Linked DNA regions of Homo sapiens. The protein of the gene in region 2 interacts with the protein of the main gene of each other region in a pairwise test. Each region holds a gene or a part of one and is shown on either strand. Other genes may lie near its edges. The genes, in order: YJU2 and FRS2.

Evidence for each region.
Region 1: the proteins of FRS2 (region 2) and YJU2 interact in a two-hybrid assay, tested with the Homo sapiens proteins (one large-scale study listed by BioGRID).

The regions. Positions count from the first base shown.
Region 1 is NC_000019.10:4,253,375-4,257,195, reverse strand, and holds part of YJU2 (splicing factor YJU2), read right to left. Parts: intron 2,842-3,821; coding exon 2,707-2,841; intron 1-2,706.
Region 2 is NC_000012.12:69,476,581-69,480,401, reverse strand, and holds part of FRS2 (fibroblast growth factor receptor substrate 2), read right to left. Parts: intron 104-3,821; exon of another isoform or gene 43-103; intron 1-42. UniProt on the Homo sapiens protein: Adapter protein that links activated FGR and NGF receptors to downstream signaling pathways.

The DNA.
Region 1 (3,821 bases), on a different chromosome or scaffold from region 2:
TTACAGAAACGGAAACTGAGGCTGAGGGAGGCGAGTCTGGTGGCCACGGGTCCCTGAGAAGTGGCTTTGGAGCCAGGCAGGTTGGGAGTGAATCCTGCCTGGCTGCTTCCCAGTGCTGTGACCTTGTTGTATTTACCCTTTGGAAAAATGGCAATTCTGACAGTTTAAAAGTATGTCCACAAACTCTCTGATGCTCCTCCATTTAAGGGGTGGAGGTGACTCCCCTCCCCTTGAGCAGGGGCTGGACAAGCTACTTGCTCTAATGGAATATGACAGAAATAATGGCACGTAACTTCTGAGACTAGGATGTAAAAGCACAGGCCTTCCTCCTTGCTCTCACTCTTGGGTCACATGCTCTGGGGTACGCAGCTGCCATGTTGTGAGGTTGCTCAAGCAGCTCCCCACACAGCGAGGAACTGAGGCTGACAGCCAACAGCCAGTAGAGGGAGCCAGTTTGCGAGTGGCTCCTCCAGCCCCAGTCCAGCCTTCAGATGATACTGCCCTGGCCAACACCTTGACTGCAACCTCATGGGAGCCCCCAAGCCACAACCATCCAGCTCAGCTGCTTCTGGATGCCTGACTCTCAAAAACTGTGGGATAATAAATGTTTGTTGTTTTCAGTCACTAAGTTTTGGGATAACCTGTTATGTAGCAATAGCTGACTAACACCAGGGTAAGAGCCCCTTGCTGTCAGTGTGGAGGTAACTAAATTCACACACAGACAGCAGTGCGACAGGCCCAGGCACACACCAAACCCTTGCCAAGGCTCATTTCCCTCCCTGTTGCTCTGCATGGCCATGGAAAATGTTGTATCTGGTCTGATGTGGCTTGCTCAGAAAACTCACATTTGGCAGGGGTGGGTGGGTCCAGGAATAGATAAGAATGGATGGGAAATATGGAAGCAGGAGGGGACAGCAGGGAACACAGTCATTTAAAAATCTGTTTTATATATATATGTGTATGTATATATATGTATATGTGTGTGTACATATATATATATATATATATATATATTTTTTTTTTTTTGCGACAGTCTTGCTGTCTTCCAGGCTGGAGTGCAGTGATGTGATCATAGCTAACTGCAGCCTCAACTTCCTGGGCTCAAGTGATCCTCCCGCCTCAGCCTCCCTAGTAGGTGGGACCACAGGTGCACACCAGTACACCTGCCTAATTTTTGTTGTTGTTGTTGAGACAGAGTTTTACTCTTGTTGCCCAGGCTGAAGTGCAATGGCGCGATCTTGGCTCACTGCAACCTCCGCCTCCTGGGTTCAAGCAATTCTCCTGCCTCAGCCTCCTGAGTAGCTTGGATTATAGGCGCGTGCCACCACGCCTGGTTAATTTTTGTATTTTTAGTAGAGACAGGGTTTCGCCGTGTTGGCCAAGCTGGTCTTGAACTCCTGACCTCAGGTGATCCGCCTGCCTCAGCCTCCCAAAGCACTTGGCTGATTTTTTTTTTTTTTTTTTTTTTGACACAGAATCTTGCTCTGTCACCCAGGCTGGAGTGCAGTGGCATGATCTCAGCTCACTGCAGCCTCTGCCTCCTGAGTTCAAGCAATTCTCTGCCTCAGCCTCCCGAGTAGCTGGGATTACAGGTGTCTGCCACCATGCCCGGCTAATTTTTTGTATTTTTAGTAGAGACGGGGTTTCACCCTCTTGGCCAGGCTGGTCTTGAACTCCTGACCTTGTGATCCACCTGCCTTGGCCTCCCAAAGTGCTGCGATTACAGGTGTGAGCCACCACGCCTGGCAAGCACCTGGCTAATTTTTTAATGTTTTATAGAGACAGAGTCTCACTATGTTGCCCAGGCTGGTCTTTGACTCCTAGACTCAAGTGATCCTCCTGTCTCAACCCCTAAAGTAGCTGGGACTACAGGTTCAAGCCACCATGCATGGCTCCTTTTAATATTTCTGAGAAAATACAAAATTGTCCTATTGGAAGTGAACATAATTTCTTTTATTTATTTATTTTTTTTGAGACAGAGTCTTGCTTTGCTGCCCAGGCTGGAGTGCAGTGGTTTGATCTCGGCTCACTGCAACCTCTGCCTCCCGGGTTCATGCAATTCTCCTGCCTCAGCCTCCCAAGTAGCTGAGATTACAGGCATGCGCCACCATGCTTGACTAATTTTTTTTTTTTTTTTTTGGAGACAGAATCTCACTCTGTCACCCAGGCTGGAGTGCAGTGGCGCCATCTCGGCTTCCTGCAACATCTGCCTCCCCGGTTCAAGCGATTCTCCTGCCTCAGCCTCCTGAGTAGCTGTAATTCCAGAAGCGTGCCACCATGCCTGGCTAATTTTTGTATTTTTAGTAGAGACGGGGTTTCACCATGTTGGTCAGGCTGGTCTCAAACTCCTGACCTCGTGACCCACCCACTTCGGCCTCCAAAAGTGCTGGGATTACAGGTGTGAGCCACTGCGCCCAGTGTTAAGTTTTAAAATTTTTAGTAGGAACAGGGTTTCGCCACATTGGCCAGGCTGGTCTAGGACTCCTGACCTCAAGTGATCCTCCCGCCTCAGCCTCCCAAAGTGCTGAGATTACAGGCATGAGCCACTATGCCTGGCCTCCTGGGGACATCTTAAAGTTTTACCAACCACGCCCCCCACCCCATCTTCCTTCCTTGGGGACCTGAGGCAGGAAGGGCACAACCATTGGCACACACACACACCCACACACACAGCGCCCATGAACACCTACATGGCCCCCGACTCACCTTCATGGGGTTGTTCAGCTCCTCGTCCTCCCGCTCCTTCTGCACCCTCTTCTCCTCCTCCTCCAGGAGCTTCTCAGCCTGGAAATTCCGCGTGGCTCCATGCTCCATGGTGTAGTCTGTGTTTTCAGGGTCTGTCTGCAGGGAGGATAGACAGACATCAGCTCCTACATCCCCAGGCACTAGAATCTTCTAAAGTACCACCAGCAGATCAGGGCCCCTTCTCTCTGATTTTTACTGGTTCTACTACCTTCTCTTTTTCTTGTCTTATTGCTTTGACTGGTGAGATTTCTTCCTAGTGCTCCTCCCATCTCCATGGGCAAAAATGCCCAACTCCCTGGCATGGACTTTAAGACTCTTCTCATCTGCCCACTGCCTCCCTGCATCCTCCACTCCCTACCCTTAACATGACTGCAAACAAACTCTCCAATGAGGCAGGTGGATCACTGGAGGTCAGGTATTCAAGACCAGCCTGGCCAACATGGAGAAACCCTGTCTCTACTAAAAATACAAAAAATTAGGCAGGGCAAGGTGGTGCATGCCTGTAATCCCAGCTACTCTGGAGGCTGAGGCATGAGAATCACATGAACCTGGGAGGCTGAGATCACACCACTGTACTCCAGCCTTGGCTACAAAGTGAGACCCTGTCTCAAAAAAAAAAAAAAATCTCCAAGGTTCTGCACATGTTGTGATTTCTGCCCTTTGTATTTATTAACACCTTTTCTTTGATTATAAATCACATGTACAAATATGTATACAGCATGCCCCTGTTTTTGTTTATTGAATAGAGAGGCTAAATACACCCTGGTATCTTAAATTACACACTGGAACAGAAAAGTGACATTAGCAGAAAAACTGAAATCTACCTTTGGTCTAAATGCTAATAGTAACACTATGTTTTTTATTTTTTTGGGGACAGGGTCTCGTGCTGTTGCCCAGGCCGGAGTGCAGCGGCAGGATCATGGCTCACTGCAACCTCAGCCTCCCGGGTTCAAGCAATCCTCTCACCTTAGCCTGCCGAGTAGCTGGGACTACAGGTATGCACCATCACACCTGGCTAATTTTTAAATTTCTTTTTGGTAGAGACAGGGTTTCGCCATGTTGCCCAGGCTGGTCTC
Region 2 (3,821 bases):
AAACCAGACACAAAAAGACAAATATTTTATGATTCCACTTACATGAAGTACCTAGAATAGTCAAATTTGTAGAGGCAGAAACTCAAATAGTGGTTGCCAGGAGCTAGAGAAAAGAGGAAATAAGGAATTACTGTCTAATGGGTACAAGTTTTGGTTCACGATGATGAAAAAGTTCTGGAGATCAGTAGTGGTGACAGATGCACAATGATGTGAATGCACTTAATGCCACCGAACTGTACACTTAAAAATGGTTAAATGGTAAATTCTATGTTATATGTATTTAACCATAATGAAAAAAATGGGCATAATAGTTAAATAAAAAGTTTTTAAATTCAATAAACTGGTTGAACACAGCTGAAGAGAGAAGTAGCTAACTTCAAGAAAAGTATCCAGAACACAATACAATACACAAAGATAATGAAATGGACAATATAAAAGACAGGTTAAGAGACACGGAGGTAGAGTAAGAAGATCTAACATACTTCAAATACAAGTTCCAAACAGAAAATATGGAAGACAAAATTTAAGAAAAAGGCCAAAAATTCTCCAAAATTGTTGAAAGACACTAATCTTCAGATTTGAAAACCTAGTTAATACCAAGCACGATAAATAAAAAGAAATCAACTTCCAAACATAAAAATGAAAATGCAGATCACCAAGAACAAAGTAGCAGTTCTAAAACTAGCCATAAAGAAACAACAGATTAGTCCAGGCACAGTGGCTTGCACCTGTAATCCCAGCATTTTGGGAGGCTGAGGCAGGTGGATCATGAGGTCAGGAGATGGAGACCATCCTAGCCAACATAGTGAAACCCCATCTCTACTGAAAATACAAAAATTAGCCAGGCGTGGTGGTACACACCTGTAATCCCAGCTACTCAGGAGGCTGAGGCAGGAGAATTGCTTGAACCCAGGAGGCAGAGGCTGCAGTGAGCTGAGATCGCGCCACTGCACTCCAGCCTGGCAACAGAGCAAGACTGGTCTCAAAAAAAAAGAAAAAAAAAAAAAAAAAGAAACAACAGATTAACTGTAAAGGACTGTCAATCACACTGTGTATTTTTCAACAGCAATAAAAGCCAGAAGATAATGAAATAAAATCTATAATGAACAAAGAAAAAACAACTGCTAATCTAGAATATATATTCAGGAAAACCAGTTTCAGGAATGAGACTAAGAAAAAGTTATTTTCCAACAAAAAGTTTTCCAACACACCCTCCCTAGGGAAAATTCTAAAAGATGTACTTCACACAAAGAAAAATGGTCCTAGATCAGAGGTCTCAGATGCAAATGAGAATAAGCAGACATCTGCAAATACAGTGTATAGGCAAATCAAAGTAACAGTGTTTAAAACAAAAGTATCTCATTTGTTGGAGGTCAGGGAGAACTAAAATAAAGCTACACAGAGTTTAACTTCCAAACTTCAAGACAGAGGGAAATGTTAAAAAAAAAAAAAAGACATTCATATAAAATTAAAACAAAAAGCAAGGTAATGATTAATATAAAATTCAGATGGCGGTTACTTAAAGAGTATGTCAGAGATCACAAGTAGTGAGAAACATGAACGGCCATCAAAGGTGCTGGCAGTGTTCTGTTTTTTAAAGTGGTTGGTCATACATGGTAGTTCATTATATAATTCTTTACACACACACACACACACACACACACACACACACACACATAATGATGTATGTCTTTGTAAGAATAAAAGTAAATTCTGAAAATCAATATAGAAGAAAAAAATTCAAAAATCTATGGCTCCTCCCCAAAAATTTAGAATACTTCACAAACACTGGTCTTCAAAATTCAAAGAAAAAGATGAATTATTTCATTCAACAAATACTTACTGAGTGCCTAATCTGCCTACATGTGAGGTGAGAGGTGTCATGAAGATGTGTGATCTCTCTTCTCTCTCGTCTTCCTAACCTTATAGAGCTGCACTAATACAGTAGCCACCAGCCCCATGTGGGTATTCATATTTAAATTAATTAAAATTAAATTCAATTAAAAATTTAGTTCTCCTATAACACTAGATATATTTTAAGTGCTCAGAAGCTATATAGGGGCCACCATATTGAACAGCATAGACATAGAACATTTCCATCATTTCAGAAAGCTCTTAGTACTACCATATTTTATTATGATAGAAATACATTGATAATTTTAAAATCTTAAATAGAAAAAAAAATTTTAACGGATTAAATCCCCCTTAAAAGTCATTTTATTTCTATGAAACTACAGCTTCTTAGTAGTATTTAAAACAGCTTGCTATTTATTAAAAATACATAGGAAGTATCAGAAATTGTTTACCATCTCCTATGTTCCAACAAAAACCATCAGACACAGGGTTTAAAAATAAATAAACAGCCGGGCGCGGTGGCTCACACCTGTAATTCCAGCACTTTGGGAGGCCGAGGTGGGCGGATCACAAGGTCAGGAGATTGAGACCATCCTGGCTAACATGGTGAAACCCCGTCTCTACTAAAAAATACAAAAAATTAGCCGGGCGTGGTGGTGGGCGCCTGTAGTCCCAGCTATTCGGGAGGCTGAGGCAGGAGAATGGCGTGAACCCAGAAGGCGGAGCTTGCAGTGAGCCAGGATCATGCCACTGCACTCCAGCCTGGGCAACAGAGCGAGACTCTGTCTCAAAAAATAAATAAATAAATAAATAAATAAATAAATAAATAAATAAATAAGCTACTATTAAATATTTAAGCACAGTACTACTAACCAGTGATAAAGCCATGTCATAGGGATATAAAAAGCCGCAGGATGAACACTGCACTCTCTCTTAGGAGCATCAATTTTAGTTAAGAGTATTTTAGGCCGGGCGCGGTGGCTCACGCCTGTAATCCCAGCACTTTGGGAGGCCGAGGCAGGCAGATCACGAGGTCAGGAGATTGAGACCATCTTGGCTAACACGGTGAAACCCCGTTTCTACTAAAAATACAAAAAATTAGCCAGGCGTGTTGGCGGGCGCCTGTAGTCCCAGCTACTGGTGAGGCTGAGGCAGGAGAATGGCGTGAACCCAGGAGAGGCGGAGCTTGCAGTGAGCTGAGATCGCGCCACTGCACTCCAACCTGGGGGACACAGCGAGACTCCGTCTCAAACCAAAAAAAAAAAAAAAAAAAAAGTATTTTAAAATACTGTCGACATGCATGTAAGATAGCAAAATGCAACATTTATATAAATTTTAAAATATAAAACCCTACAGGCATCAAAAACTTCAATTTATAGCAGGCACACTTTGGGCTGCATTCCTAGACTTCTGAGGGTACTATTCATCCACATTTCTGCCATTGGGAGTACTTTAAGAGAAAAATTTAAGCACTGTTAAAATAAATGAATTAAACATTTTTTATTTACCAGCAACAATGATACACAACATAACTCTATAAACCCATATCATTTTAATATCTAAAGCAGCAAACCCACAGTTTTCTTTAAAATTAACAGAGGGTCCAAGCTATTTCTACTTAACCTGAACATTTTGCCTTGGACATTCTAATAGAATTTAAATATTTCTATAGCATTCCCAACTTTTAAAATTACGCAACCAAAAACACTCAAAAGAAACAAATGTTAAGCCTTAATTTAACAGTCACCTAGGCTAGGTTTGCACCTTAAGTTCCCCACCCCCACACCCCCCCCCGTCCCTCCCCCACAGCCGCCTGCCCACCCAAGTGAACCAGGGAGTCAATAAGCTCCTCATCTAGACAACTGATGCAATTTCAATAAGCACTTATGTTCATAATTGGTTTGTGTCCCCAGGAGGACTTCTGTGACTCCACTTACATAACCCATTACGCACAGTGCTGCACTATT